Regions from separate parts of the Homo sapiens genome. Here all the other regions are linked to region 2. Evidence: fine-mapped expression QTL. A gene starts in region 2. Each other region holds a variant in brackets. All regions are shown on one strand. Distances are between the middles of the regions.

Region 1 (11,025 bases), 47 kb before region 2:
AGTCAAGATCATTATCTGCAGGCTGGGCATGCTAGAAAGCGGAGTCTTCCCTACTGACATCTCAGCAGGATTTATGATCCTCTCTGCTTATGGAACATGAGAAAGCCAGGCCTTGGGGTACAGCTGAGACAGAATGCTTGCTTGAGAAACCAGCTCATCAAACAGGACTTACTTGAAATAATTGATCTAGGCTTCAGTTGAAATTGATAGTGGCGTAGACAGAATTTCCCGTGTCTGTCTTTTCATTTCCAAACTTCTTCAAGGAGTAGTCTATGTGGCTCCTCAAGGTCTTCTCCTTAACCCCCTAACATCTGGCTTTCATTTTTCAGTTGTCTTCCCCAGGCCGGGCAATCTATGCTGTTGGATCTAGGTTGGTTGGAACTTTCTAAGATTGCTACTGTCCTTGTCTTGAAAGTCCAATTAAAGGCAAGAGGAAATATTTTGCAGACTTCTGAGTTGGGTTGAATCTGATGCTTGATTTATTTGAATGTTACACTGATTATGGGAGAGACAGATTCCAAATTAGACTTCTGAGTTGGGTTGAATCTGATGCTTGATTTATTTGAATGTTACACTGACTGTGGGAGAAACAGATTCCAACTTAAGACTTCTGAGTTGGGTTGAATCTGATGCTTGATTTATCTGACTGCTACACTGTGGGACAGACAGAGTCCAGCTCAGCCCCACATTCTGAATTGTGAGAACCAAGATATATACTTCGTTTAAATTTCCAACTGTGTGACGGACCGCATTCTCTAAATTAATAGGTAGAGGCATCTGAACACCAAATTGTAGCCCTAATTTGTTATAACTAAAGTCCCCTTTGATTGTGCCCTTTCTACATCTTATCAGAGGGACACAGAGTGGAAGACTGTTAGTCTGAGATTAACAAACACTGGAAGGTTATATGAGAAAGCGCGTGTTGGATTTTAAAGTTAAAGAACTTTAGGCAAATTTCTTAGAGTACACCAATTCTCCTTTTTGCCAAATTCAAGAGTGAAACAGAAAACAAAATTTAAAAAACAAACTACTGTTTATTAGGCAGTATACTTGACACTTTGCATATATTATTTTATTTAAACAACCCTTAAAGGAGGCATTTTTGTCCCCACTAAAGGAGATTTGACCAAGGTCACATTACCAATAAATGGTGGAGGTAGGACTCAAAGTTAGGCTTTTCTGAAACTAGAGTCCATGTACTTAACACTACTATACTGCACTTTTTCCCGTCAGTCTTATTCTTGCTTTTTAGCAGCAGATGATATTTTACATTCTCTCTTCTTTTTGAAACTCTCACAAGTTAAACTAAATGTTATGCTCCTCCAGTTTTCCACATACTTCCTCTTTCTCCATTTCCTTTGTTAGTTCCTCTTCTCTCTCTTGCATTCCAGAATGTGCCCTAAAGCTTAGTGTTTCTTCACACCTTTGGAAAGATGACCTGTACCCAGGGCTTCAATTTACACTTCCACATCCCACCAGACTCTGAATTTCAGGACAATGGAGACCCGATCTATCTTATTCACTGGCAAATTCTTAGCATCTTGCAGAGTGCCTGATACATAGTAGATGTTTAATAGATGGTCAAATGAATGGATGCATGAACTACAGATCTGCTGATAATTCTCAGATACTCTCCTGAAGTCCAGATACATATTCCTAGGTAACTACTAGATCTTTCCTCCTTAGTATCTTGCTATTGCTGTGAAATGGTAGTAAAAATTTGGTGAAGCCATTGAGGGTTTCAGCAATTTACTGGGGCTACCACACCAGCTGGACTCTCTCATGTTTCCCCAATGGAGGTGGCTTTATTACCAAGCTGGGATATAGACCTTCTACAGAGGAAAATGGCAGCCTGACTCCTTCCAATGATATGGGTTTGAGCTTCTTTGAGAGGGTCCCAGTGCAGCCTCTGGTTGGAGTCCTTGCTAAGTAGACATGGATAAAAGATGGTTGGATCTGAAGCAACTAGTAGCTCATCTGGGGGTGACAATACCACCACATTCATTTGGGTCAATGCATGCTAGTGTTAGCTGCCCAGGGAAGAGTTAATTCCAGGTGAAGTGTAGGCATGGAAGAAGAATGAGCACATAGTTGTGAAGAGTCACAATCCTAGCAGGGCCTCCAGATCTGTCTCCTGGCTGCCTCCTCCTGCTTTGAGTGCTCAGATATTTCCATGAAACTTGGCTGTAAATGCCAAAGTTGGTGGTTGTCCGTAATTACCAGGGGTGTGGTTCACTGAGCATTTGCTTAGTCTGAAATAATCAAATGACTTCTTGTGGGAAGAATGAACAGAGAGAGCCTTAGAGGCTGGATGACCTCTACCTGCTGAGTCACCCTGCCCACCTAATTGCTTCATACTATTTCTGTACTATGTGCTTCCTGGTGGGCATTAACATGTGATCAAAGATCTTCGTACTTCACGCTTGCTATAATATCTATTCTCACACTTTCTACCCTAAGACAATTTGATTCCAATTTCCCAATCTTTCTTCTTCTAGGCCCCTGATCAGCCAGCCAGGCCATTTGCCACTGCCAATGAATCTATAACTTTGGGCCATTTCTTTCGTCCATACAAAGTGGGTGACCAGATTCATCTCTTGAACTCTTTCCATTGGAAGAATTTTTCCCTGACCACTATCTTTCAAGGCCACCCCTGAGGGGATGTGTAGAGCAGCTGCTGACCATTTTTGGCTTGCACTACATACTGCTTGCATTACCTCCTGAGCTCCACCTCCTGTCAGATCAGCAGCGGCATTAGGTTCTCATAGGAGTGTGAACCCTATTGTGAACTGTGCATGCAAGGGATCTAGGTTGCATGTTCCTTATGAGAATCTAATGCCTGATGATGTGTCACTGTCTCCCATCACCCCCAGATGGGACCATCTAGTTGCATCTAGTAGCTCAGGGCTCCTGCCAATTCTACATTATGGTGAGTCGTACCATTATTTTATTATATATTGCAATGGAATAATAATGGAAATAAAGTGCACAATAAATGTAATACACTTGCATCATCCTGAAACCATCCCCCTCACCCCATCTGTGGGAAAATTGGCTTCCATGAAACTGGCCCATGGTGCCAAAAAGATTGGGGACCACTGGGTTTGACAAAACCCAGTTCATGATGATGCGTGTTCTGGATGCAGGGTCACTTGGTGCATTAGTTAGGGTTCTCCAGAGAAACAGACCCATAGATGGACACACACACACACACAGACAGAGTGGGGAAATAGAGAGATTTATTGTAAGGAATTGGCTCATGTGACTGTGTGAGCAGGCACCACCAGAATTTACAGAGCAGGCCGGCAGGCTCTCAGAAACACACGGAAAAGCTGATGTTGCAATCTTGTGCAATCTTAAATCCAAAGACAGTGTGAATGCAGAATTTCTTCCTCCTCAGGGGACCTCCAACTTTTCCCTTAAGGTCTTCAACTGATTGGATGAGGCCCACCCATATTATGGGGGTAATCTGCTTTACTCAAAGTCTACTGATTTAAGTGTCCATCATATCTAAAAAATAGCTTCAAAGCAACATCTAGACTGATGTTTGCCCAAATATCTGGACATTGTCGCCGGGCCAAGTTGGCATATAAAATTAACCATCACCCTTGGTATCTCAGAGGCAAGTTCCATATTTATTACGGCCCAGTAGCACACTAGAGTTTTTCAAAAGGCAAATAATTCTTCCTTGCAGATGGCATGGCTTTGTTCCAGAAATCTGGGATCTGCATAACGATTGTCCCACTGGGACTCACCATAAACTAACATGACATATTTTCCCACCACCGGTACTCAAACATCATACGGTCTTCTGGGTCACTGGCTCAAATGTTCAGGAGTTACTGTAGAACCCTTTTCTGCTCTGGGTTCCCTCAATGATGGTAATTTTCAAGACACCCAGCACATGGACCGGAGCCGCATTCCCAAGTGTGAAATGTGCTGACTTCAGAACCTAAAGAGGTCTACAAGGAATTGTGCTTCCTTTTTCCTAATGGGGAGCGCAAGATGTAATATCTGTCTTTCACTTTGGGTGGGATATGCTAGCATGCCCATCATCATTGGATCTTTAAAATTTTCGCTGATGTTGAGCTTCTGAATCTTCCTAGGGCTTACCTCCCACCTCTGGAGCAGATGCTAGCTGGTTCTTGATCATTCAGCCATTTAGCGCCATGTCATCAATGTAGTGGATCAATATGAGGTCCAGCGAGATACTCAGAAAGCCCAAATTTCCTCAGACTATATTACAAGAGTGAGAACTAACACAGCCCTGGAGAAAACTATAGCTCTGTTGCCTATTTCACATGAAACTAAACTGTTTCTGGTCTTTTCTTTTTTAAGAGACAGGATCTAGCTCTATAGCCCAGGCTGGAGTTCAGTGGTACAATCATAGCTCACTGTGGCTTCTAACTCCTGGGCTCACGTGATACTCCTGCCTCAGCCTCCTGAGCAGTGGGGACTGTAAGTGTGAGCCACTACACCTGGCTTCTGATCTTTTTTTCTGATAGAAATGGCTGGCTCCATGCTGTGTACCCAAAGCCATGTTCACCTGCTCTAGCACAGGTGCCACATCTGGCACAGCAGCTACAGCTGTGTTTGTGTAGTCTACTCTCATGCTCCAGGAGATCCATCTAATTTCTGGAGGGGTCCAGACTGGTGAATTAAGTGGAGATAAAATGAGGATCTCTACTCTGGCCTCCTTTAGATGCTTAAGGGTAGCATTAATTTCTGTCATCCCTCCCAGGATATGAATTTGTTTTGTATTTAGTAGCTTGGCTGGGGGCAAGGTGGGAGTAGATGGAAATTTCAAAGGCTGCTACTTGGCCTTCTCTGCTATGATAGGCTGCTTTTACCTGACAGGCCAAGGATTCAATGTGGGAGCTGCACCATCTATCAACTATGTCTATTCCAATTATATATTTGGAAATGATCAGTAGGTAGGCCCACTGTGAGCTAGACCTCAGTCAATAGTCCACTTGTAAACTGGTCTCATATGATTATCTTGTAATAGGGAGGATCAAGATGACATTTCAGGTCTCCAGCTATCAATATCACCTCATATTCTACGTCCAACAGTAATCACATGCTTGGGTATTCCCTCTGCCCCCAATGTAGAGTTATACATAGGCCCCTTGGGGAGAGGACTGAATCAATATCTCTTGCGTTGCCATGGTGTTGCAAAGTCATTTTATCTGGAGACTATCCTCTCTTTTCATCAGTGGGTTCTGGGTCCCTATAACAATTGAGGTCACAAAACTGGATAAGAGATTGTGTTTTTATTGGGGTGACTGCACTCAGCCTCCTGATCATCTAGTCTTGATTTCTTCTCAAGGTACAAGTTGAGTGCCAGGCCTCTGAATATTTGTAAGGTTTATTTTGGGGTGCCTTTGTTGACTGTCTCTCTGTTTTGGTCCTGTGGATGCTGGGGTTGTTTTTTTTTTTTTTTTGAGACAGAATCTCACTCTGTCACCCAGGCTGGAGTGTAGTGGCACTATCTTTGCTCACTGCAACCACTGCCTCCTAGGTTCAAGCAATTCTTCTGCCTCAGCCTCCTGAGTAGCTGGAACTACAGGCATGCACCACCATGCTTGGCTAATTTTTGTATTTTTAGTAGAGACAGGGGTTTTACCATGTTTGCCAGGCTGGTCTCGAACTCCTGACCTCTCCCAAAGTGCTGGGATTACAGGCATGAGCCACCGTGCCCAACCTGAAGCTGTGTTGTTTTAATCATCTATATAATTCTGCAGATGAGGCCCCCTTGGCTGTGATTTTGATCTTACCACTCATTATGAAATAATTGTATCACCTGGTTTTTGATGGTGAAAAGCTGCTGACAGGTGTCTATTGATTTCTATTGTTTTGGGGTCTTATCACCATTCGTACCTGTAAGCTGAATGATGTAATGATCTCTCCTACTTTCACCTGGGATACTTAGTAATGCTGGGATCCCTTTCACCAATGCTTTCTGTAGCCTTGATAAATAGCATGTCCAGGCCTTCCCATGAACTGTAATAATCTAGTGTGCTATCTGGCCTTACACTGTACATCCACTCCAGCCTGCCCACTTCCCTACATCTTTTAATCTATTCTTCCACCATGTGCTATGGAAATTCTTATATCTTAGTTTCACTCAGCATGGGTCCTTGCTTTTGCCACACTTCTAGGAGCCATCTATGTAGCAGGTTGGGCCCACCTGCTGGGATCCTAGCCTAAGTGTTAAATCTTGTATTTTAGAAAAATAAATAAACTCTTTCATAACCAGCCTTATGTCCCAGCTTTCTTGATTGAGCACTCTTGGGGTTCATTTCCATGGACCTCCCGTGGTGCCTGCTGGTACCTGCTAGTTAGGCATTGCAGCTTCTTTGGGGACTCTTTCCTTTCTTGTCAGACCTAGCGCAACCCTGGCTGGGTTATTCTGTGACTTAACCCTCGTTATGCACCTAGTGGCCAGAAGGGAAAGTGAAAACAGATGCTGGGGACATTACATGTTGCCCTGAGCTGGAGAGGCAAGGAAGGGGTGCTAGCTCTTAACAGGGAGGGAATTCACTTTTGCAGGTTTGGGAAGTGCAAGAATCTGAGCATTAAAGATTTTCAGAGCCATCAATGCTGGTTTCCCCATCCCTTGTGTCAGAGTCCTATTTTTTCCCAAAAAGGGCCTTGGCCTTGTCATGGTAGACCTGCCTTAGTTGGGAGTATAACATTCTGAATCTCAGGTATTCTGATGATTAAAACCTGAGCCTGTTCTTCAGCTTTCTCTGCTTTCCTACTGCAGAAGAATCTCTTGGCTATCAAGGAAGCCCTCTTGCTTCCACTCTTCACTTTTAATTGCCCATTAATCACTCTCAGCCTTTCATTATCTTTAACAAAGCAACAATCACAGTAATCATCCACTCCCACTGTCATTGTTGTGACTATTTCCTCCATAATTTTCAAATGCCTGATATATGGTGTGTA[T/C]TGGTGTTTTCTCTTCCTTAGTGTGCTATCCCACTTCACCACTGGTGAAAGTTTCAATAATTGGACCATCACCTTATGCCAGGGGCTATCTACCCCACCCACCTCTAGATGGGGTCCTCAGTGTCAACTTGGTGGTAAGATATTCAGCTCCAAAGCTATCTTATCACCTACTTTCTTAGACCACTCTTGCTACTGACTGTCACAGGCTGAGGTTCCCCAGGAAGCAGCCTCTGAGAGAAAGTTTAGTATGCAGGATGTCACTATTAGGTGATGTCCTTGGTATCAACGCAGGTGGATAGGATGACTCCTTTGTCCCAGTTTTCCTGAAACAGCCTTAGTTTTAGCGCTGAAAATACAGCATCCTGGAAACCCCCTCAGTCCTAGGAAAACCGGGGCTGTTGGTGGCCCTGCCTGTGAAAGGGAGGAAGCAGAAGCAGGATCGAATTGAGGAGCAGTCAAGCTGCGATACAGGCCTGAGAGCCTCAGCTGCCCCAGGGAGAGCTCTGGAACTAAATTTGGCACATCAGACATGTCCAGCATCAGGCTGAAATGGCTGAGTCCTCATATTCCTGCTCCCTCAGTCACTGGATATGGGCTTCCCTGGGAAGGGCATGGCCTTGGGTAAGCAAATCTGCAGCTGAGATCTCTGAATGGGGCTGACGGCACTCCTAAGAGTTGAAGCAATAAGTCCTCCCATGAAAAGGGATCTGGGTGGTGAATCCTTGTGTCCAAGGCAGATATGTGTAGATATATTTTTATATTTGCATAGACCATCTGTGAAGGGATGTGCAAGAAATTGATACTGTGGTTGCCTCCAAAGAGAGGAAGTGGGTGACCAGAACAGGGTGGGAGGAAAAATTACTGTAAGGATATATTTTAGATTTTGAATATGTACAGTTTGAATTTTTAAAATCGTGTTAAATATACATGTTTATTACACACATGAATTTAGGCTGAAAAATCAATAAAAAAAGTGGAAATAAGAGTTTTCACAGATCTAAATAATTTCTCTACCATATCTCTTGTTAACCAAAGGAGTAAAAATATTTAAATTCTCCTACCAAATTTATGCTCTTATTTTTAAATCTAACCCCAAATAGCCAACCTGTTAGCATCGATACAGGAGCTAGAAAGAAATTAGGCAGATAATGAGGGCACAAGACTCCTCAGCAAGATTCCCCTTTTAACAAAAAGGAGCCCCCAAATAATTTCTAACAAAAATAAGCCTGAAAAATTGAACTGCAGACATTGATAAGCAAGCTGGAAACTTGCACAGTGAATGCCAGCAGTTCTGCCAATAGAAAAGGGCTACCCAGGCCCAGGCATGTTCAGCATGGAGGCTCCATCTTCCCTTTTCTTTGTGGCCACATGTGCAGTAAAGGAACAGGCAACATGGCGCCGGCCAGGTAGAGAATCTATCTGCATAATAAAATATTAGTGTGGAGGTGGGGGGCAGCCAGATTTTCATGTGCTATGCAAATGGCACACCTGGTCTGACCAATCTTTCATGCCCCATGTAAATCAAACACCGCCTACTCAATATAGGTCATCTATAAAACCTCCTGCACTTCACCACAGAAGTGACAACCCACTTCTCTTTCTTTCACCTACTAAACTTCCGCTCTGAACCTCACTCTTTGTGTGTCCATGTCCTAGTTTTCCATGACCATGAGACAATGAATCTCGGATATTTACCCCAGACAATGACACTGTTCAGCATGAGATAAATAGTAATAGTAATAAACTGGTTTGTTAAGGAATTGCCACTTTATTTGGCACAAAATCTGAATAGTTTATCTACCAACACATGGCTTTAATTTTGTTTTAGCTTTAATCTCACCCTTCAACTTTAATATCTGTATTTCTATTTCTTCCTTTCTTTCCCTTTTCTCCCACATCTTATTATGTAAATTTTAATATTATCTTATCCTATGTTGTGAAATATATATTTTATCTTTGTCTCAGGTTTCCTGGTATACAACTCCTAAAAATCCTTGGACTCTTCAAAGTGATGTGTCTTTTTGTATGATAATGATTGACGGCTGGCAGTCTCCAGGTAGCTTCAGGATGGGGGCTGGTCACCAGAAAGACCAAGGCAGGATTAGAGGGTTGAAACTTTCAGCCTCACTTCCTAACCTCCAGGGAGGGAAAAAGGGGCTGAAGGTTGAGTTGATTACCAGTGGCCAACAATTTAATCAATCACGCCTACATAATAAAGCACCCATAAAAGCCCAAAAGGACAGAGTTTGGATAAACTTCCAGATACCTGAACAAGTATAGGCTTCTAGAGGATGGCATGCCTGGAGAGGATATGAAAGCTCTGCACGTGATTCCCCTGTGCCTTGCCCTATGCATGTCTTCATCTGTGCTCTTTGTAATATCCTTTATAGTAAACGGGTAAACATGTTTCCCTGAGTTCTGTGAGCCACTGCAGCAGGCTAATTAAACCCAAGGAGGGAATGGTGGATATCCCAATTTATCAGCAGGTCAGTCAGAAGCATAGGTCACAATCTGGGGCTTGCAATAGGCATTGGAAGTGGAGGGCAGCCTTCTGGGACTCAACCTTCAACCTGTGGAATCTGATGCTGTTTCCAGTTAGATATTGTTGAAATTGGATCGGAGGACACCCAGCAGATGGTGTCTGCTGCAGAATTGGTTGCTGGTGGGGAAAAATCCCCGACATCCATCTTGGTAACCAGAGGTCACAGAAGTTTTCTGTGTTGTTGAGTGAGAGAATGAAAACACAGTTTGATTTTCCTCTCTGTATCTTCAGAGATTCTCAATCCTTTTCAGAACGAGTATGGGTGTATATAAATGTAATATAAATGCTTTAACACAGGGGTTCCCAACCTCCAGGCCGTGGACCTGTACTGGTCTGTGGCCTGTTAGGAACCGGGCCACACAGCAGGAGGTGAGCAGCAGGCAAGCGAGCATTACCCGCTGAGCTCCGCCTCATGCCAGATCACTGGTGGCATTAGATTCTCATAGGAGTGGGAACCCTATTGTGAACTGCACATGTGAGGGATCTAGGTTGTGCACTCATTATGGGAATCTAATGCTTGATGATCTGAGGTGGAACGGTTTCATACTGAAACCACTCCCCCTGCCCCCATCTGTGGAAAAATTGTCTTCTACAAAACTGGTCCTGGTGACGAGAAGGTTGGGGACTGCTGCTCTAACGCCATATAAGTGTTCCTGAAAAATCTATGCTGTACCAAAAATAATAAGGCAAATGGAGTAGACAAGGTTCAGGAAGACACTAAAAACTTATGAACTATGTAACCAGAATACCAATAAAAATATTACTAATAAAAATGTTACCACAGTTAGCTTTCTTCTAGTTTTCATGGCTGTTAATCATTTGCTTCCTTATAATTTCCTAGACTTGTGCTTCCTCCTTTAAGATGTAAGTATTAGAAGGCATTTGCTTTTAAAAAATTCAATTTTCATCAAATTTTAAAATCGTATCCAGTCTGTAGGCTTCCTAATCCATTGTTTTATATAACTAGAAATATCTTCTTAGTGTCTTTATCCATGCCTGTTCCAGATAGCTTAACTGAATGAAAATTACTGAAGGTCCCTAAAGCTACTAAATGAGGCTTTTTTTCCCAATAAAGAATAAACTTCTGCAGATTTTCAGCTTTTTTTCCAAAATGTTTTCATATATCTTTAAAGCTTTCTCATTAATTATAAGAAATCTTGCCCTAATTGCTTTAAAACAATGTGCTGAGAAAAATTGTGTATGAATCCATGCAATTTCCATATTATACCAATGTACCAATATCATTCCTTTATTTACCAATTTTGTATGAAGTAATATACATAAAAGACTTGAGTCTCATCAAGATTAATGCGAGTTAGCCTTTTATTTCATGCAATTGCATAGCATTTGGTTTGATATACTATTAGACATTGTGTAAGACTCTATTATGAAATAAATCATCTCAAAATAACTTTTAAAAAAGCAAATCTGTTCATCTCTTCTGACTCAAAAGGCTGAAGGTGAATCCAAAGGTACTGCTAAATCCAAGTACTAAAATGCTGTAGTAGAAATATTTCTATATCTTGGCTCTG
Region 2 (11,025 bases):
TGAAATGAGAGAAGCTGGGTTCACATTCCAGCAGATTGGTAGGTTTTGTGGTAGGAAGGTGAGGAAGTTCATTACCTAATGACTTCTATTGTCTTCAGTATAAACAAAGTCATCAGCTGAGTATGGCAACAGGGTATGAGAGGCTTGACAAGAGAATAAAAGGTATAAAACAGTCATCTTTGGGAGTGGAACACCGAACTACTAGAGAAACAAAGATGGGCTGTTGGGCAGCAGTAAGTGACGATTTGAGGTTGAAATCATGAAGCAAGGCCAGACAACAAAGTTGTGCAATATTCTCCAGCAATGTTCAGCTGCTCAATGCCAGCCCAAAGAAATGGGTGGCAGGGTTCATCCTGGCTAAAGGTTTGGCTAGGCCAACTCCATATGTAAATTAGGTCAACCACGACCTTAAGTAACAACTGTTTCAATAGACTGGGTGTGGAAGCAAGATCGCAGTGAGCTTCACTCACTTTCATTTAGAAGTAAATGAAACTTGGAGGCATGGAGTTCTAATGACTCTTTCAATAGTGTTGCTATAAAGAAGGGCTAGACAGGGAAAAAGAAGGGAAAAACTGGTTAATTAAGACAGTTTTCTGTTACATGCTAACGGGTAACATGAGGAGACAGGGAAAGATTAAACATACAGGAAAGCAGAGGTCTAAGAGGTCAGCCTTTGTCGAGATAGAGAAGCTGGCATTAGAAAAACAGGAATGGGAGGAAAGGTAAAGATGCAGGTAAGTATGTAATAATATTAACAATGTAATATTAAATATGTAATAATACCACTGATAATAAGAATTGCTAACATTTCTTTATAGAGTGCTTATTTTGTGCCAGGCATTTTTCTAAAGCCTTTATATGGAATACTTTACTTTATCCTTATAACAACCCTATTGTACTAAGAGAGATTAAGTAACTTGTCCAAGGCCACCAAGATAGCAAGAGGCAGAGCCAGAATTTGAACCCAGGCAGTCTGATTCTAGATCCTGGTCCTTAACCTTTACATTATACTGCATGTGGAAAGAGGAAGACATTAAGAAGTTCACACCTAATAGCTTTCAGTTTCTTTGTGATTTTGGAGGCAAGGTCACCTTTGAAACAGGTGTGGGGTAAAGGATGAGGTGAAATGATGAGGTTCTGGAACAGCTACTTAGGGGAATGTAAAAGGAAACTCCCCAGAGGACTGTCACATGCTACTCAGAGGCCAGCTGCAGTAAGACACCAGAATACTTGTAGACACACTAATTCATATAGTTGAATATACCCAAAAAAGTGTATGGTAAAAGGGTAGGGGTTGGGCAGAGAAGGATATGACCATGGGAATGGGATGTTAGAGTGAGGGGGCGGTAAAGATGAACAGCAGTGATGAGGTCAAGGAAAAAAAAAGGGCAAGGTACTGGATGTACTTGTGCTGCAGAAATATCAAAGAAAAAATATTTGTTCAGTGTCAACATATATAGGACACTGTGATAGTTAAGGTAAAATTAAAAAAATAGAAGTAGTCCCTACCTGGTTTTTCTCTGCAACTAAGCAGAGAATGGGCTCTTGGTATAGCTATACCTACCACAGTGCTTTGCTCAATAAACGTTGGTTGCATTAACATCATATCTCTTACATTAAAAAAAGTCCTGTATCAGAGGTTATGGTATTTTGTGGACTGCTTCAGGCTCACAGGAAGTTGTTTATTTGGTCTACGCAATGCTTAGAAAGAGTCTGAGCCTAAATTTTAAAATCAAGAGATTTCATATAAAATCTGAGTTTCCAGTTTCCCTTAAAAAAGCAAAACTAAACAATGGGCCCATAATACTCCCACATAGCAAAAACGATCAGTGTTGTGTAGTGCTACCTCTTAAAACAGGGCATATGCTGGCCCTAGTATCTTCTTTTTGGTTTCCATCTGGCCAATCTAAAATGCCATATTCTCCATGAAGTCTTCCATGAGTCACTGTATGAAATGACCTTCCCCTCCCTCTATACTTGCAAAATACTTTGTCATCCCCTAATGGAACTTCATCCTTTCCCCCCATGCCCCACTGCCCATTACTGGTATATATTAATTATAAATATGCATTTGCAACTGCCCAAGTTTCTGAAAAATAGGAACAACTTACTCATGTTTGCATTTTTCAGCCTGGACTTCAATATACGGTTTCTGAGTAAATGCTTTCTTTTTTAGGGAAACACTCCTTGACTTTTGCTGATGTTAGAAAAAATCAGTTCAAGGGCCAGTCAGTAGGGATTTAATTTCAGAGCTGTAAAACCAGGTCAGAGATTATTGTCATAAGCTGAGTCTGACCCGAAAATAATACACTTGATGCCTGAAGAATCTTTAGAATACAAGAAGAAAGTACATGAAACATAAGTCACTTGGGGATGTTACTGCAAATGATAATAAAAATTATTGAATGGGCTACAGAGTGTTCAGAAAAGATATATAATATCTTTTATAATATGTGTTCAGAAAAGAGTGTCTATCAAAGACAGAATAATATAAATACACAGGTCTTGAGAGCGAAGGTTTTGGTGAGCAAGTCTTCCAAATCTTTATCTCCAATCCAGTTCTCTCTCCTAGCTTGAAAGCAATACCCAGTGTGATGGTTAATACTGAGTGTCAACTTGACTGGATTGAAGGATACAAAGTATTGATCCTAGGTGTGTCTGTGAGGGTGCTGCCAAAGGAGGATTAACATTTTGAGTCAGTGGGCTGGGAAAGGCAGGCCCACCCTTAATCTGGATGAGCACAATCTAATCAGCTGCCAGCATGGCTAGAATACAAGCAGGCAGAAAAATGTGAAAAGGGAGACTGGCCTAGCCTACATCTTTCTCCCGTGCTGGATGCTTCCCGACTTGAACACTGGACTCCAAGTTCTTCAGTTTTGGAACTCAGACTGGCTCTCCTCGCTCCTCAGCCTGCAAACGGCCTATTGCGGGATCTTGGGTTCACGTGAGTTAATGCTTAATAAACTTCCCTTTATATATATATTCCATTAGTTCTGTCCCTCTAGAGAACCCTGCTAAATACACTCAGTGTATAGTACCACATGCTGAGGCTGTACCTCAAACTCAACATGTCCACAACACACCCATCATAAACTGTTTCTTCCTCCTGTATTCTCTTTCTGGTGGACCACCAGGCCCCAATCACTAGATCAGAAGCCTAAAAGTCATTCTTGACTTCTTTTCTCACTACACACATCTAATCAATAACCAAGACCTCCTGATTTTACTCCCTCACTCAGACCTACAGCATCTCTTGCTTGGATGCCTGCCACGGCTTCCTAGTCTGTCTCCATGCCTCTGGTCTTTTTAACTCTAGCCAGCAATCCCCAGGCCTTCTTCAGTCATCCTGCTGATTATCTCATTGCCCTTAGTTTAAAAATCTAAGATTTGCTTAACAGGCCCTTTAGGTCTGGTCCTAGTTTGTCCAGAATTGGTTCCTTCCCGTGGGTTCTTGGTCTCACTGACTTCAAGAATGAAGCCGCGGACCCTTGCGGTGAGTGTTACAGTTCTTAAAGATGGTGTGTACGGAGTTTGTTCGTTCAGATGTTCAGAGTTTCTTCCTTCTGGTGGGTTCGTGGTCTTGCTGACTTCAGGAGTGAAGCTGCAGACTTTCACAGTGAGTGTTACAGCTCTTAAAGGTGGCACGCAGGTTGTTCGTTCCTCCCGGTGGGTTCATGGTCTCGCTGACTTCAGGAATGAAGCCGCAGACCTTCGCAGGGAGTGTTACAGCTCATAAAGGTAGTGCGGACCCATAGAGTGAGCAGCAGCAAGATTTATTGTGAAGAGCGAAAAAACAAAGCTTCCACAGCCTGGAAGGTGACCGAGGGGGGTTGCCGCTGCTGGCTCTGGTGGCCAGCTTTTATTCCCTTATTTGGCCCCACCCACATCCTGCTGATTGGTCCATTTTACAAAGAGCTGATTGGTGGGTTTACAAACCTTTAGCTAGACACAGAGCGCCGATTGGTGCATTTACAATCCTTTAGCTAGACAGAAAAGTTCTCCAAGTCCCCATCCGACCCAGAAGCCCAGCGGCTTTACCTCTCACTAGCTTTTCTCTTTAGCTTCATCTCAAGTCTCTGGCCCCTACTTTATGTTCCAGAACACCAAACTTAATATGGGAACACACCATGTCTGTAATCAAGGACAACCCTGAGATTGTGTACATGCTACTTCCCCTACTTGGAATATCCTTACTTTCATTGCATGTGGTTATGTCTTCCTGATCCTTTAGGCCTCAGTAGATACTTTCACTGTTTCCTGAGGTATTCTCTAACCCATTCAAGTGTATACTCCTAAACTACCTTGAACTTTCCCATCTAAGTCATATCGTCATATGTCAAACTATGTCATGTTGTCATACCATCTTTGTCTCTTTGCTAATTTGTCTCTTCCACTGTACAGCATGTTCTAGGGGAGAAGGAACCAGATGCAGCTTGCACTTATAAATCCACAATGCCTGGCACATAGTAGGCGCTCACTAAATATTCGTTGAATTAATCACTTACAGTTGAACATTCCCCTTCCTTAAGGCCAAAGAGACTGTCTCTTTCCATTGCCCATGACCCCCTAAAACTACAATGAAATTTTATGACTTCTTAAAACTTTTCTTATTGCTGTTTTTATGTATTTGTACAAAACCAGACAAATACAAATATCTAGAGGGGCTCATGTATTTAACTAGATATGCAAATCCAGTGTGAGTAGTGGAAGCTGTGGTAACCTGGCCAGCACCCTCTGTAAAGGTGGTGTTCACTAGTAACCGCAATCCAGATCCCATGAAAAAATAAGGGCCCAATGTCACCATGTGTTCTGAGGTTTTAAAAGAAGCTGAAATGATTCTGGATTTTGAAATGTTGGCTTGGCAGGGCGTGGTGGCTTACACCTGTAATCCCAGCACTTTGGGCAGCTTAGGGGGGTGGATCACCTGAGATAACGAGTTCGAGACCAGCCTGGCCAACATGGTGAAACCCAGTCTCTACTAAAAATACAAAAATTAACTGGGTGTGGTGACATGCGCCTGTAATCCCAGCTACTTGGGAGGCTGAGGCAGGAAAATCGCTTGAACCAAGGAGGCAGAAGTTGCAGTGAGCTGAGATCACGCCACTGCACTCCAGCCTGGGCAACAAGAGCAAAACGTGTCAAAAAAAAAAAAAAAAAAAAAAAAAGGTTGGCTCAAATTTTTCATGAACATTGAGTGCAGCAAAAAAAAAACATGCCTGTCCACCAAGCTGTCTGTGGGCCATGTTTGGTTTGAGAATCCTAGTTTATTCTCGGGTCCCTTAAGGCTCTCTTTGATGCTCATTCTGATGACATTACACTAAGATTTACTGATTGAGGGTACGGACACTTCTCCATACACACTTGCCCAGGAACGATCTCCAGTTACCTGTCCTGTCTCCAAGATCTTCTCTCTCTCATCCAATCTTGCCTATGCAGCATTCTATTTTCAGAGTCGTCTTTGCTAATTTGGGGAAGTCACTTATTCAAACAAGAAAGTGGTTGACAAATGTTTAGCAATGAAATCTCCCGCGAGTTACTACTTTTTAATTAGGATTTTCAACCCTAAGAAAGATATAGATAGGAGGAATAAGATAGGGGGAATAAGGAAACTAATTTTGAGGGGTTTCCCTGCCTCTTAGGTGGGGTTTATCATATTGTGCTGAAACTGCTTATTCGTCTAGTTCTCCAGACCCTGGGCCATTTATCTTACGTATCCCTATCTCTGAGCGTGTAGAAGGCGCTCCATAAAACTGTTGGTTTGTGTAAATGACCGAAAACTACATGCAGCGTGAGGGTGGATTTCCCTTTGACTTCGGCTTAAGGAAGAATCGTTCCCATGATCATCCCACAATTCATCTAAACGGAGATAGGCAAGGAGCAACTGCTCAAAGGCAAAGCGCTGGCAGCTGAGGCACAGCTCCGGTTCGGCAAACGTCTCCCGAGTGCCAAACGTCCCCCCAAACGCCTAACTGGTCGTCAGGGCGCAGAAAAGAAGCTTGGGGGGCGCGGTCTTCGCCCCAGCTCCACTTCGGTGCTTCACGATTCCTTCTCTGGCCTGCCTTCCTGATAAATACCCGGTGAGGTCACCTAAACGCTCTCCTCTCTCAGTTATTTGCTTCTTTCCAACGTTTGGCGCCCAGCTCCCGCCATCGGAGCGCCCCGCCCGAGACCACTGATCTCCTGGGGCCTCGCAGCCTTGCTTCCGAACGCCAAGGTCGCGGTGCGCCGGGGTAGCGAACGGCCAGGCCCGAAACCCCGCCCCGCAGCTAAACGCCCGGCCCGCTACCCTGCGCCCAGCTCCAGCCGCCGGGTCCCGCCTGGGCCTCTCCTCCTGGGAATACCGGGCACCGGTGGCCCCGCCCCTACCTGCGCGCCGCATCTCCGGGAACAACAGTCTCCCTCCCGAGCATCACAGCCAGACATGGCCCAGACCAGGGACCCGCGCGGCCTCCAATCTCCGCACGGCTTTGCGCGCGGCGCTTAGCCTGGGATACGGCAGCGAGGCCGCAAATGCAATCAGGCGGCGCTGAGGGCAGCCCGGGGGCGGGGCGAACGGGGCGGGGGCCGGGGTCTGGTAAGGCCCCGCCGGCTGAGATATCCAGCGGCGCACCTGACTTCCCGGGAGGCAAGGCCAACGTGGTTGGAGGCGGGGCTGGGTTGGGGGGCGGGGGTTCAAGTCTGAGAGACCTAAAGGCACCGCTAGCGTCTGGGGGCGTGGCCAACCATGCGGGAGGCGGGGCCTTGATGCTGGACATCAGGCTGTGCTGCGGGCAGCCAGTGAGAAGGCCGTCAAGATGGCGGCCTCCTGGAGGCTGGGCTGTGATCCGCGGCTGCTGCGTTATCTTGTGGGCTTCCCCGGCCGCCGAAGCGTAGGGCTGGTGAAGGGGGCTCTTGGGTGGTCTGTAAGCCGCGGAGCTAATTGGAGATGGTTTCACAGCACGCAGTGGCTTCGGGGTGAGTGGCCGGGGCTCGCTCAGCTTCTCTGTGTAGCTGAGTGATGGGCCTGGGACAGGGGCAGTTATGATTGAGGGCCTGCTTTTGGGTGTGAAGGTGCGCGGGCTCCTTATTCCCTTTCCTCTTTCTCCGGTTGGGGTCCGCCGACTTGGCCTAATGCATGCTGTGAAGGGCTTTCTTGGCAGCTGAGAGAACTCGACTCTGCCCTAGGCCCCCTGGTTTGTATGGCTTTGTGACCTTGCCTTGGAATTTGGGTTATTTGTGAGGCGCAGAGAGGGTTCCCAAACTCTCCTCCCTCAGCCCCCTTTCCAATCAAGGCTCAGGTTTCTTTAGGGTTGTCAAACGTCTCGGACGAGAAAAAGCTGCCCAAGGTTGCCGAGATTGAAAAGCCACTGTTGGGAGTTCTTACTTATTCTCTAGGCCTCTCTCTGTTAGGAGGTGTTTTCATTGAGGCCAGTCGAGTTTTACCCCACGCCATGACTCGTGGAAGACTTAAATTTGTAAATTCCTACGGCATCACGATAGACAAAGGTCCAGGAGAATGTTTCAAGCAAATATTCGCTTGAAAGAGCAAACATTTAGGAGATAAATCATACCAAAAATTTATTATAGAAAATTGTTGTTTAGTAATGATATTGATGCAGTTAACACAATTCTTGCAGTATTTAACAGTATGCAAAATGGCAGGCCGGGTATTATTTTTCCTTATTTTGGGAGAAGGTTGGAGGGAGGCGGGGATGGAGAATAGGACTGACGTTTTTTAGTGTGACGTATTACCTGCCAATCATCGTTCCTGGCACTCTACAGAATGAATTTTAATTTAAATAGGTCTAGTAGACGTTGCCTTCATATTCTGAGCTACCTTAGGCTCAGAAAAAAAAAATCACACAAAGTCATATGGTAAGATGAGTGTATTGGGGTTCCTAAAGGTTCCTTAATGGGAACAATTTATTTCATTTTTGGTGTAATGTTTCATAACATATTCCTTGGAGCAGAGGTGCTTTAACAGTGTGTGCAGAATTCCTTCTCTTCCCTCCTCCAAGTTTGTTGAAATTAAACTTTTTTCCAGCTCCTAGAGATTCGGTCTGGTCTGGTGTGGGGCTCAGGAATCTGCATTTTACAAATGTTGGATGAGTTTTGATGTTTTATTTTGACATTTAATGGAATGAGCTTTGAGACTCACTGCCTTAGAAAATCATGGAATATTAAAAGTTTAGTATTGGATATAATCTAGGAAGAGTGCTCTTAATCTTGTTTATCAAGCAGATCCTTTTGAGAATCTTTGAAAATGTTACAGACTCTCTGTACAGAGGAAGTACCATAAATGGTCACACACAAAAATGTGCACGTAGTGGCTCACGCCTGTAATCCCAGCACTTTGGGAGGCGAAGCTGGAAGATTGCTAGAGCCCAGGAGTTGGAGACCAGCCCGGGCAACAAAGTGAGACCCCCGTCTCTACTTAAAAAAAAAAAAAGAAAGAAAAAAAGCCAGGCGTGCTGGCATCCCAGCTACTCCAGGGGCTGAGGCAGGAGGATCCGTTGAACCCAGGAGTTAGACGTTTCATTGAGCTATGATCCTGCCGCTGCACTTTAGCCTGGGTGACAGAGTGAGACCCTGTCTCAGGAGAAAAAAAAAAAAAAGTATACATAGGCCCAGTTTAATGCCTTTAGAAACTCAGTTAGGCAAGCAATCCTTATCTGCATCCTCATGATGCTTTTTTACCTATTCCCTATCCCCTAGACATATACCATGAACAACTTGTCTACCCCAGTTTGAATACCATCTGTCAGGAAGAAGGCATGGCATCTCAAGGAAAGCCAAATTAGTTTTCTAGTGCTGCTGCAACAAATTACCAGAAATTAGTGGCTTAAAACAACACAAATTCACATCTCATAGTTCTAGAGGTCCGAAGTCCAAAATGGATCTAACTAGGCTAAAATCAAGCTATTGGTAGGAGCTGCATTCTTTTCTGGAGGCTCGAGACCCCATTCCCTTAAGTTTTCCAGATTCTAGAGGTTTCTAAGATTCTTTGACTCATGGGCTTCAAAGTCAGCAATGGCTGGTTCAGTCTTTATCACATTACGTCACTCTTAATACTCCCCTCTGCCTTCTGCCACTTACAAGGACCCTTGTGATTACATTGGGCTCATCTGGATGATCCTGAATATTTTCCCCATCTCAAGGTTGAGTAGAAACCTTAATTCCATCTTTAACCTTAATTCCCTCTTGCCATGTAACAGCATATTCATAGGTTCTGGGTATTAGGACGTGAACCTTTTGAGGCATGGCATTCTGCATGTGAAGCTGTGGAAAGTATTTGGAAATACTAAGTATTTGGAAGTGTTGGACTTTTTTCCTAATACCGAGCCAAAATATATCCGCTTCTGACTTTCACCTACATACAGATTTTTGTTTTGCCATGCCGAAAACACGTGGCAATCCTTGAACTATTTGTTTTACAAACTGTGAATTTACGGTGGTGTTTTTTCTCTGAGCTTGGTAGAAACTGTAGTTTTATAAAACTAAACAACTATTTGGATTACTGTAAACTATATAAATTAAGTACATTTATTGAACTGTTTCGTCTTTCACACAAATATCTTTAAAAATTTGTCAGTCGGAACTACCTTTGGAGTTTTAATTTCCTTAAGAGGTGCTGGCAGCATTTTTATGAGCTATGACATATGCCATTTTCTTAGCACTTTCTAGAATTTCTCATTCACTTCTCACATAACCTAGTAAAGTTGGCATCATCTGCATTTAGTTGGACAAAAACACCAAGGCTTAGAGAAATTGAGTCTCCTAAAGACATGTAACTGTGTTGATGAACTGAAGTGCATGTATATATTTATATACATATATTAATTTGTTTAACAAATCTTTAATTTGTATCATTCTCTCAACAGATTTATTGAGAATGCAGAGACTATCTTTTTTACCACTTACATTATTGAAGAATGAGTGAAGAAATTAGCATCTATTAGGTGCCAGGCACATGGTACCCTGCTTGGGAAGTAGTGGCCAGCTGAATCAAACAGATTCTCAGTATTTGCCACATGGCACATTTAATCATACTTAGCTCCTGGACATGCAATCCAAAATTCTATATAGGGCTGATCCTTAAGGTATTTGTAGTCTCTTTGGGGACATAAACAATAAAGGTATGATTTCAATAGTGTATACAGTAAGCTCAGAGGGGGTAAGTTTGAAATGATCAGGAAATAATATATAAGGCAGCTTCTTAGAGGAAGAGGTGACAGCCCTTACAGGCTGAAGGAACAGCAGAAACAAAGACCCAGAGACCAGAGTGATCATTATATAATTGACACAGCATCTGTAAACAGTTTTTCAACCTACTCTAGACAGTTAACTTCAGAGAGTTTAAATTGTGGTCCTTTCAGAGTAGGTAGCATGATTTGGAATATAATTGGTAAGATGTTAATTAATAGTATTGGTTTTAAGTTGTCTCTGAAGAATAACATGTTGAATTTAAAATAACCTGTGAATAGAAAAGTAACTGAGGTTCAATCTTGGTGGCGATTTGCCTAGTATATAATTATAGGCAATACATATTATAGATGTTCAATAAACATATCTAAGGAAGCTAGTAATCTAGGAAGTTATAAAAGAACACTAGAGCCTACAGTAGGATTCCAAGTTGGCAGCCAGGGAACTGACCCACATTGTTTTAGCAGAAAAACTTATGGCAAAATTTTAAAATCAGGAGACTTTACAGAGAAATCTAGATTTTTGTTCTCTCTTTAAAATTGATAGTTAAATCCTATGTGGTGACAATTATCTAACACTGAGTAATGATTGTTCTTTTTAGGTAGGAAATTGCTTCCTACTTTGTCACTATGCCGCCTACTCTGTATTACATCTTAGCAAGGCTGAATGTCCCTTGGTATTTGCATCACCTCTAGTTGTCATTTTTTTTTCTTGTACTCTTATCTCTACGGAAGGCAGAAGACAAAAGACCAAGAAAAATGGGAGAAAGCAGATATTGTGTATATGTGTAAAGGAGGAAAATGCTTATCCATTTAATATGAAAATAAAGGATGTCAGAATCTA
Region 3 (11,025 bases), 30 kb after region 2:
GATTTTTCTGCTCTGCCGTGAAGCACTATGGAACAAAACCAGGCTAAGATAATTCCATCAAGCACTTAGCCACACCCACAGTGCCTAGAATGTACGTAGTAAGCATGCTTAACAGTGGTGCTTGTTGCTGCGGTATTCCTTATGTCATGAGACAAGGGATTTTTTTGTATTTCAAATAGTTTTTGTCTAATATACTGTTACTGTATAAAATTCAGAAATAAAACCATTTTGAAGAAAGCCTTATCCTATATCACTAGATGCCACTAGAGAGTTATATGGGTCTCTGGATTCTACTATAGAAGACACTTTGGTTCCGTTATTTCTGGCAATATGTATATGTTTGTGGTGCTAAAATGGAAAATTTTGAAAAGTCCATTTCACAAATAGCTTCCTTTTTTTGGTGTACTATGGTTTTCACAGCTTTATTGAGGTATAATTTACATACCATAACATTTACCTATTTTAAGTATTCAATGATTTTTAATAAATATATGGAGTTGTGCAGCCATCACCACAATCCAGTTTTAGAACACATTTCTGTCACCCCAAAAAAGATCCCTGCTGCCTGATTGCAGTCATTTTTTTCCTCCCATCTCTATCCCTAGACAATCCGGATCTGTTTTTTGTCTCTAAAGTTTTGCCTTTTGTCTATGTTTCATATAAATAGAAGCATGTAATGTTTGGTCTTTTGTGACTAGATTTTTTCAGATTTAGCATGATTAAGGTTCATCCATGTTGTAGCATTTATCAGCTGTTCATTCCTTTTGTTACTAAATTATATTCCATCATTATGCGTTTTTACATTTATTGCTAAATCTTTGTATTATATCAGAATTTTTAAATTAGTGAATGGAATTATAGATTATAGTTTTATTCAATAGAAGTTTCTGTGGTGATGGAAATGTTCTGTGTTAAACTGTCGAATACAGTAGCTACTAGACTTTAAGAAGCCAGAGGGATGTGTGGGTGGTTGACCTTGTCTAACTGGGCCCTTCTCAAACTCTCCTACTCATGCCTTCACCCCATAGGGCAGGACCTCAACTGGCCTAGCAACCAGGTTGCCTCAGGTCTTTGGCCATGCAAATATTATCCTTCTTTGTGTGTGTGTGAAGTGAAAAGGGATGACAAACACTGACTAGGGGTCCCTCCTCTACATTCCCATTCTGCTGTAGGTACTAATTGGATGGGATTGTCATTGCCTGCTTGTTGTACTGTTCTTCAATCAGATTAGGAACTTCTTGAAGCAGTTCTGTCTTATTTTATTACTATTTTTATCATAGTGTCGCACACAGTGTCATTCACATGGGCAGCTAGTAAATACTTGTAGAGTCAACAATTGAATTATTTTTGTTTCTGATTATTGTTATCATTATGGTTCAACATAGCACTAAGAAGAGGAATTTTTCTTTAATGTTCATGTTAATCTGATAACTTGGTCTTACAGATAAAAACTAGCTCTCTTCCACCACCACCACCACACACATCTTTTACGTAAAGACTTTTATTCTTAATTTTTGGCAGAACAAAATTATTTTGTGAAAGCCTCAGGACTTATTCTATTAATAAAATAAACATCACCATTAACTGTGTTTGACCAAGGCTATGCTTAATATCTAGAATTTAAAAAGAGAAAGGGAAGCCTCCGTATACTTCAGTCCTCAGCTCTGGCAGCTGCCCATCGGACAAAGGAACAGGACGATGATGCTGGCGTCGGTGCTGGGGAGCGGCCCCCGGGTGGGCCTCTGCTCTGGCCCCTCCTGGGGCCCGCACTCTCGCTCTGGGCCCGCTCCTCTTCCGCCACTGCCATGGACCACGAGAAGATGGTGCAGGAACACTCCAGGGCTGCCATCTCTTTCTTCAATCAGTCAGCTATGAACCTGACAGCTGAGAAGCCATCTGTCATCTCACGCTGTCCAGGACCCTCTATCCTAGCTGCTGAGTCTTTTCCACTCTTCTCCACTTTAAACTCTTTGTGGACAGAACCTTCTCTTTTTGTTGTTTTCATACCCAGTGCTTAGTACAGTGCCTTATACATTAATGTTTGTTGGATGATCTGGTAGAAATGACAGAATATGGAATAAATGTGTCCTGATTCTGGTAGAAATGACAGAATATGGAAAAAAACCGTATCTTGATTCAGGTAGACATGACAGAATATGGAATAAATGTGTCTTGATTCAAAATGGTTGTATAGCTAACATTTTATTTTTACCTAGAGATGTTGTAAAGTGTTACATAAAGATGTATGTGAAGCATTAACACTTCCAGCCCCATGACTTAAAAAATATATATCTATACATTTAAAATTTTCCTGAGAGTCAGAGAGATTAAGTAACTTGGTCAAGATCACTAGTAACTGTCAGAGCTTGGAATCAAACTCATATTTGAATTAGGAGAGGTTCCTTGTAACTACTCTGCCAAGGAGTCTTTCTAAGTTATAGCACTAAATTTTTGATCACAGCTGAAACTCAGTAGATTTGAAATATTCATGGCTCATTATTTGCTCTCAGAGTTTTCTTTTGGCATTTACATGATGTTTGATTATTGAAAGATAGAACTTTGGTTTTGTGATGAGTTAGGGGTAATGCTTCCATACGTAATATTACTATGTTTTTAAAACTTCCCTGTGATTTATTGGTAAAGTGTTCTGTGTTTCTTTTCCCTACCTCCCTCTCTTTTGTCCTCTCCTTTTTTCCTTCTCTCTCCTCCTGCTTTTCTCTTCTACCCTCTCCCTTGGCATTCTCATCTAGCTAACATATATGTCTGTGTTATGTGAATAGATATAGTTTTTTAAAAAAGAAAAAAAGGCTATCTTTTTAAATATCAGAAGCATGCTACAAATCAAATGTTAGAAGCAAAAGAAATGTAAAAGATAATTTGATGTATACCTTATGAGGAAATAAGGATTCGTGAAGTTATCATGTTTTTTTCTAAAGCATTTTAATCTAAAATTCATTGGGTATGGTGCATTGGCCATGAAACCTGAGGAATGGGGATGGGAATATAAAACATTTAAGTGTCCTGTCCGTATTGTGAAGAAGCTCATAGTCTAGTAAATAGAGGAAATCACAATTTAAAAAAGTAATTAGCAGTAATATAACATTTTATATGCAATTTGTGATTTTTAAATAAATTAGACCTACTATAGGAATCTGGAATATGAACAAAATTATGTAGGTCAAGTTACTCAGAGAAAGTTATATAGCTGAAGTCGAATCTGTAGTTCTTAAAGTGTGGTTGGAATTTGAATACTGATGAACACAAATGATGATATAGCATCATTTTGTTTTTCTGTGGCTAGAGTCTGTTTTCTAGGCATCTAAGAGGTATTTAATTGCTGGGTTTACTAGTTCTATAGTTTTTCCCGTGATTATAGCAGAAATCTTTGAGGGTGTGCTTTTTTTCCCTTTTGAAGTGCAATCTGTTTTAACCACTAAAACATTTAAAGAAGTATGTAAGATGATATAATCTGACACTGTAGCTTTCTCTATGACATACAAAGGTCATTTTTGGTCTCTTCCTGCATATCTTACCAGCCTAATCTCTCGTCACTTCTCTCGCATACTATTTGCCAGTTTCTCTGAAGTTTCCTGTTCTCTCTGCCTCCAGGGCTATAAGTGTATTACCTTCTACCTGGATCACTGCCTGTTTACAGATTGTCTCCTCCTCACCTCTTCAGGCTCAGAATAGGTGGTCATTGTATTCTAGGAAGCCTTTTCTCACCTTACAAAAACTGAATTAGATGCCCCTCCTGAACATTCCCAAAGCATCCTGACCTCACCTTATCCTGCTGTATTTTCCAGTTTACTTGTCAATGGATATTAAGCAAGCTTCTTGAGGTCAGGAATCTTAAATCTTTGCTGTTATTACTGTCCACTGCTGTATCCTCAGTGCCTACATATGTATATATATTTTATATGTAATATATAAATATATAATACAAATATGTGTGTGTGTGTGTATATATATATAAAATATATTTATATAATTATTATTATTTTTTAGACAGAGTTTTTGCTCTTGTTGCCCAGGCTGGAGTGAAATGGCATGATCTTGACTCACTGCAACCCCCTTCTCCCAGGTTCAAGTGATTCTTCTGCCTCAACCTCCCGAGTAGCTGGGACCACAGGTGCCTGCCACCTCTCCTGGCTAATTTTTGTATTTTTAGTAGGGACGGGGTTTCACAATGTTGGCCAGGCTGGTCTTGAACCCCTGGCCTCAGGTGATCCACCCACCTCGGCCTCCCAAAGTGATGGGATTACAGGTGTGAGCCTACACGCCTGGCCACCCCAATACATTTTTAATAAATGTTTGTTGACTAGGGACATCTCTTTGGAGTTAGACAAAGGACCTTTTAGGTGGTAAATAAATATCATCTAACATATCAATTTATTTTTAAAAATAACTTATATTAGTGTCTCTGAACTATTTAACCTGAAGATATAACTATCAATTTGATCATCTTGGTACACAATGAAGTACTTTCTGTACTGTGAACGTTCAGAGCATATTTGTTAATTTAGTGTTTTAGATTTTCTTTCATATTCTCTTATGATGCTTGCCTGTTAATATTGCTATTCCAGCTATTTTTGGTGTGTGAGGAGGTGTATTTATATGTTACATATTTTTTATCCCCTTGTTTTTTATTCTGTTTTTGTGTTAGGGCTATCTCTTGTAAGCTACATTTACCTAGATTTTATTTTCATATCCATTTTGATAATCTCTACTTTTAATGGGTGATTTTAATCCATTTATATTTATTGTGATTACGGATACATGGGGACTTATTTCTACCATTTTTTGTGCATTTTTGTTTTTATCCTTTGCCTTTTCTTTCCATGTGCCTGCCCTCAGTTAGATAATCAACTTCTTATTTTTCCTCTGTTTTTCTAATGCTGTAGATTATATTTCTGTTTTTAAATTTTAAATTAAATTTTGCCAATAAAGTTTAGTATTATTCAGTATTTTTCTCCTATTATAAGTTGATGCAAAAGTAATTGGGGTTTTTGAAAGTAAGGTGGTAAAAATAAAATTACTTTTGCACCAGCTGAATATATCAAAGTTGTTAGCATGCCTTACCATCTAAACATTTCCTTACCTATCTTATTATTTTTTAGAGTTTGAGTTTTACACTTTTTAAACCCTCAAACATTACTTTAAAAATACTAGTAGTTAACATTTTAGTAATTTTCACAATAACTTGTTTCTTATAGCCCATGGGTTCCATCTGCTTCCACTTTTCTTCTTGATGAACTGCATCTTGTAAGAGCTTTTTAAAGAGATCTTTAATAGGTGGTAAAATTTCCTAGCCTTTATATATCTAAAGAATACTTCTCTTTCATTCTCAAATGATGGTTTGGCAGCATACAAAATTCTAGACAGTTATTTTTCCTCAGTTTTTTGAAGATATTACTTCATTGTTTTCTGACCTCTGTTGCAGCTGCTGAGAAGTGTACTCTCAGTCTTTCCATTGAGGTAATCTGTTTTTTTTCCCCTTTGATAGATTTTTAAAAGATTATGTTTTTATCGTTGATAGAATGCGGTTTCTTTACATTGTATCTAATATGGATTCATGTTTATATAGTCTAATACTCTTTTTTCTGTTTAAGTTTTTATCAAGGTATAACTTGCATAAACTTTAGGCTCA[A/G]TTAAATTTTGTATACATGTATACCCATGTTACCACCACCTAGATCAAGATTTAGAACATTCTTAGCAAGCTACACAGATCCGTATGCCCCCTGCTAGTCAGTACACCTATCCTAAATTCATTCAAAACTCTTTGATGATGAGAGTATACATCTCCAGTTCTGGGAAATTCTCAGCCACTAATTCTTCAGGTATTGCTTCTCCACCAGTGCCTCCAGTGTCTTCCCTCAGAACTCCATTAGCAAACATTGCAGCCTCAGTCTTTGTCACTTAACTGCTCTTTTCTGTTTTTTCGTTTTGTTTTGTTTTTTGTTTTTAATGTTTGTATCTTTTTGTCTGCCTGTATGAAATTCTGCGTAGTTCATTAGTGCTACCTTTCAATTTACTAATTCATACCTTCACTATTCCCTGTCTAGAATATATTCTGTTGTTTCTTTTTATTTCAATTACTTAATTTTTCATTTTTAAGATTTCTAATTCGTTTTTTTATTTCTACCTGATACCATTTTTTTTTAATTTCTTGTTCTTGTGATGGCTCTTTTACTTTCATTTATGTTTTTGGATGTCCTCAAGTACTTATTTTACAATCTTTGACAGATTGCACTAAATAAATTGCTTCTGAAAAGAATTTTTGTTACAATTACTGATTTTGTGGCTTGCTTTCTTAGCTTTTGATTTCTTCGTGTGTCTCAGAACTTTCTTGTGCAATTTACTTTTAAGTGGAAAGTTTATGTTTTAATGTCTTCCCTCCTACGCAGTCCCCCCTCGATCCTTGCCACCATCCAAGGAATTTTGCAATTGATATTGGGGATATTGGCAGATACAGCCCCGGAGCCAGAGGGTGGCTTGACTTTGTTCCTGGTACTGAGGCAGTATTCTGGTCCCCACCTTCCTAGACCCATGGTTGCTGATTAAAATCATAGTCTCAGTCAACAGGTTTTGATTGTGCATTTTATCAGCCTCACATTATGAGTAGAAGAACCCTGACTTAGCCCTAGCTCCAAATAGTGAATCTGATTTGAGTCCCCTATATCCAACAGACTACTTTTAGTTCCCTTTAATCCCCAAAGGAAACTGTTGTACCTCTTTTCCCCTGTTTGCTCCAAACCTGCTCCTAAATCCAGAAGCTAGTAAGCCTGGAACTTCAGGTCTTCCTCCATATTTTTGAGTTTCCAGATATTTTCTGTTGCAGAGAAATGATCTGTATTTGACTTCAGTTGTGTCTTTGATTTTCTCTTTTTATGCTTTATATGCTTTATTCATTTATACTGTGTGCTGCCAACAGGTTTTTTGAACTTGCCCTAAGATGTGAACCCAGAAGTACTGTTAATTGTAAAACTTTTCTTCAGGGAATATAGTCAAAATGTTTGAAAAAGTAAGGGGGATATGGAGTCTGGAATTGATTTGTTCAGAGGTGGATACACATTTGTTGCTGATGTCTTTAAGGTTGATTTCATTTTTACATGCTCAGTAATCTTTGTAATAGCTTTTTTATTATCACAAGTATAATTTATGTCCATTATAGAGCTTTTGGAAATTACAGCAAAGCATACACATACACACACACACACAAACACCCACACATAATGAGAATTACTTGTATTTCCACAACCCAGAAATAGCTACGGAATATTTTGGTATTTATTTATGTTTTATTCATACGTACATATATACATAGTAATATTTATATTTTAAAAAACAAAACAAACCCAGTCTTGTTTTGTAGGTGAAGCGGTGAGTGCTGGAGATGCATTATGTGAAATTGAGACTGACAAAGCTGTGGTTACCTTAGATGCAAGTGATGATGGAATCTTGGCCAAAATCGTGGTAAGTTTTTATTTTAATTTTCTTCAACAGGATGAAGATTTCTTGAGTGGAAAGTTCATTGTAGTAAAATTACCTTTTATTTTTGCCTCCTTATTTTTAATGTGTATTGTCTACTACATAATACATTTTTAGTTCAAGTGTTTAAAATGTTTTAGAGTTAAGGTCTAATAGCCTATTTTTCTGTATTTTCTAAATTTTCTGTAATGTGCGTTATTTTTATAATGGAATATTAGAGCTTATGTGAAAAGTAAGTGAAATAAAATGCGTAGAGCTACATATGGTAGAAACATGACTATTTAGCATTGTGTGGTATATTCCCTGATTGAGCCAACCAGCGTGTTTGTTTCTTAACTTCCAGAACCTTTACTAGGTAGTATGGTGGAGCATCTAAGACTGTGGACTCTGGAATCACCCCGCTGACTGATTCATGTTATATCTAAAAAGTTCTGCCAGTTATTAGTTACGTAATGATAAGCAAATTCTTCATCCCCTGTGCCTTTTTCTTCATGTTAAAGTAGAGATGATAATAATACCTACTTCATAGGACAGTAGGGAAGATTGAGAGAGTACATATATGCTCATCTCAAGACCTGTTACCCAATTGCTCAATAAATGTTACTTTTCCCATTATTAGAACTGTTTCCTCAGCTCTTGGTGACCATTAGTCCCCAAGTCAGTCTGTATGTTTGCCTAATAATTTGTATTGGTTGGTTGCAACTGGATAATAAGTATCCATTTGTGCCTCTGGAGTTCAATTTGTACAGATGAGCTGCATGTCTATTAGCAGTCCCTTGTGGATGTGTTTTTATTTCTGAGCCACCAGCTTACCTCTGCTTTGAGCATAGATGTAACACCTTCCTTTGTATATTCTATTCAAAGACTACACTTCAGAATGCTATACTCTAACTAGGTGCAAATCTAGAGACAATTTTTTATTTGTTTTTCTTTCTAGAAAATCCTCTTTTCCTTTTTTTTTTTTTTTTAGCCACTTATGTTGTATTTTTAACTTCGAATATGTCAAACTCCTTTACTTGTCATCTCTCATATTAGATACTAGATATAACATTCCAGGTTGAAACATGTTGATAATACAGTTAACTTCCTTGTAGGAATATGAATCAAAGCCTAAAATTTCTGTACATTTGTAACTAGGAAAATATAAATATTCATACCAAAAATAGTTTTCTTGACTAATTTATGCAGCATATTGAAACAGATTGCTTGAATTACCATGTAATAAACCCAGCTACATTTTATTATGTGTGCTTTTGGCAAACTGTGTTCTTGGCCCCAATTCTGGATTGTTTGGCTGTGGAAATCTTCCAGAATTGATAGCATTTTTCCACTTAGCTGCTTAGTAATACATTTCAAATTGCTAACCATGTCAGTGGGTCAGCAGTGCCAATTCATCTGGCCCCTATGCTCTGAAAAAGGTTGGGAGTGGGAGTGCATATAGTTGATAGTGGCTTTGGTGGCACAGCTATTTTCTTGCCAAAGAAAAGACTGTATATTTTAGGCCTTTGTGGCTTTATTATTATTCCACATGCTTTTTGGATAATATTTGGGAGTCTCTTCACAACAAGATGTTGCAATTTTATCAGGGACAAACTAGTAAATCTTTTTTTCTTCTGTTTTTTGTTTTTGTTTTTGTTTTTGTTTGAGATGGAGTTTTGCTCTTGTTGCCCAGGCTGGACACGATCTTGGCTCATCACAACCTCCGCCTCCTGGGTTGAAATGATTTTCCTGCCTCAGCCTCCCAAGTAGCTGAGATTACAGGCATGTGCCACCACACTCAGCTAATTTTGTATTTTTAGTAGAGACGGGTTTCTCCAATTTGGTCAGGCTGGTTTTGAACTCCTGACTCAAGTAATCTGCCCACCTTGGCCTCCCAAAGTGCTAGGATTATAGGCGTGAACCACCATGCCCTGTCAAAACTAGTAAATTTTGATACAAAAATACTTCAGTTATTATACATTTAAAGATCAGTTCATCAGCTTATTCTTAAAGTTAGTATTTAGCAAATTGAACAGCAGCTGTTTTAAATGATAAATTAATAAAGTAGAATCTTAGGATGACATATTTGGAGGGTTTATTAGAGGTTCTCTAATTTGGCTTCCAGTGTATTTGGGGTTGCTATATAATTTGGCACACCAATTAGGATATTTGTGAGGATGAAAAGGGTATAAGATGTCAAAATTATTTACATTTATGTAATGTTTGCAATGTATTTATTGACTAGCAATATATTTATTGATAGATTTTTATTGATAGACCATTATTCAAAACAATTTTCAAAAGTAGAATTTTTTCTAAAAAATAGCATCCATGGATATTAAAACAAATTTTTTTTAAAAAAATGGTTTTTTAATTGATCATCTGAATACTAAAAATAGCAGAATAATTATTCTCGGTACTATTCACCTTCTTCAGTTGGTTTCTTCACTTTATCTCACTCAAATACTGTCATTGGTATTTTTCTAAAGAATACATTTTTAAATATTACTGTATTCGTTAGATACCCCTTCCCCACCCTTATTTTTTCATTAAGTTGCCCACAATCCCATTCAAAGTTGCCTTTTAATGGTTTGAAAGTTTATGGTTGAAATTTGAAGTTGTAGAGGCTTCAAATGATTCTTCTGTCTAGACCGTGATATTTTTAATTGAGAAAATAGCCTCTCAGAGCTCAGAGCAGTTCTATTAAATGGAAGATATTCTCAACTCTAATTTTTTCTTTTTTTAATGTTTGTTTATTTATTTATTTATTTTATTATTATTATTATTATTATACTTTAAGTTTTATGGTACATGTGCACAATGTGCAGGTTAGTTACATATGTATACATGTGCCATGCTGGTGTGCTGCACCCATTAACTCGTCATTTAGCATTAGGTATATCTCCTAATGCTATCCCTCCCCCTTCCCCCCACCCCACAACAGTCCCCAGAGTGTGATGTTCCCTTTCCTGTGTCCATGTGTTCTCATTGTTCAATTCCCATCTACGAGTGAGAACATTCGGTGTTTGGTTTTTTGTCCTTGTGATAGTTTACTGAGAATGATGATTTCCAGTTTCATCCATGTCCCTACAAAGGACATGAACTCATCATTTTTTATGGCTGCATAGTATTCCATGGTGTATATGTGCCACATTTTCTTAATCCAGTCTATCATTGTTGGACATTTGGGTTGGTTCCAAGTCTTTGCTATTGTGAATAGTGCCGCAGTAAACATACATGTGCATGTGTCTTTATAGCAGCATGATTTATAGTCCTTTGGGTATATACCCAGTAATGGGATGGCTGGGTCAAATGGTATTTCTAGTTCTAGATCCCTGAGGAATCGCCACACTGACTTCCACAATGGTTGAACTAGTTTACAGTCCCACCAGCAGTGTAAAAGTATTCCTATTTCTCCACATCCTCTCCAGCACCTTTTGTTTCCTGACTTTTTTTTTTTTTTTTTTTTTTTTTGAGACGCAGTCTTGCTCTTTGGCCCAGGTGGGAGTGCAGTGGCGCAATCTCGGCTCACTGCAAGCTCCGCCTCCCGGGTTCACG

Alleles and levels. Alleles are on the strand shown, and positions count from the first base shown. SD is a standard deviation of normalised expression in the study named. Not every link is listed here.
As copies of G replace A in region 3, the expression in lymphoblastoid cells of the gene that starts at base 6,518 in region 2 goes down (moderate effect, 0.41 SD a copy in GTEx).

Evidence for each region.
Region 1: its variant is fine-mapped to the expression of APIP in lymphoblastoid cells (GEUVADIS, PIP 0.92).
Region 3: its variant is fine-mapped to the expression of APIP in lymphoblastoid cells (GTEx, PIP above 0.99).

The regions. Positions count from the first base shown.
Region 1 is chr11:34,863,232-34,874,256 of GRCh38, forward strand. The region is part of intron 6 of LOC102723568 (a long non-coding RNA gene); the gene reads left to right. The region is part of intron 1 of LOC105376624 (a long non-coding RNA gene); the gene reads right to left. Among named protein-coding and RNA genes, the nearest start is that of APIP, 48 kb to the right of the region's middle. The variant T/C (reference allele first, on the strand shown) is at 6,952.
Region 2 is chr11:34,909,862-34,920,886 of GRCh38, forward strand. APIP (APAF1 interacting protein) reads right to left here and starts at 6,518. Exons shown (of 7, transcript NM_015957.4): 1 at 6,367-6,518. The coding sequence starts at 6,423. It overlaps PDHX (pyruvate dehydrogenase complex component X), which reads left to right and starts at 6,757. Exons shown (of 11, transcript NM_003477.3): 1 at 6,757-6,954. The coding sequence starts at 6,795. RefSeq lists silencers at 6,179-6,518, 6,539-6,588 and an enhancer at 6,759-7,058.
Region 3 is chr11:34,940,134-34,951,158 of GRCh38, forward strand. It overlaps PDHX (pyruvate dehydrogenase complex component X), which reads left to right. Exons shown (of 11, transcript NM_003477.3): 3 at 7,373-7,473. It overlaps MIR1343 (microRNA 1343), which reads left to right and starts at 1,704; the gene lies at 1,704-1,787. The variant A/G (reference allele first, on the strand shown) is at 5,648.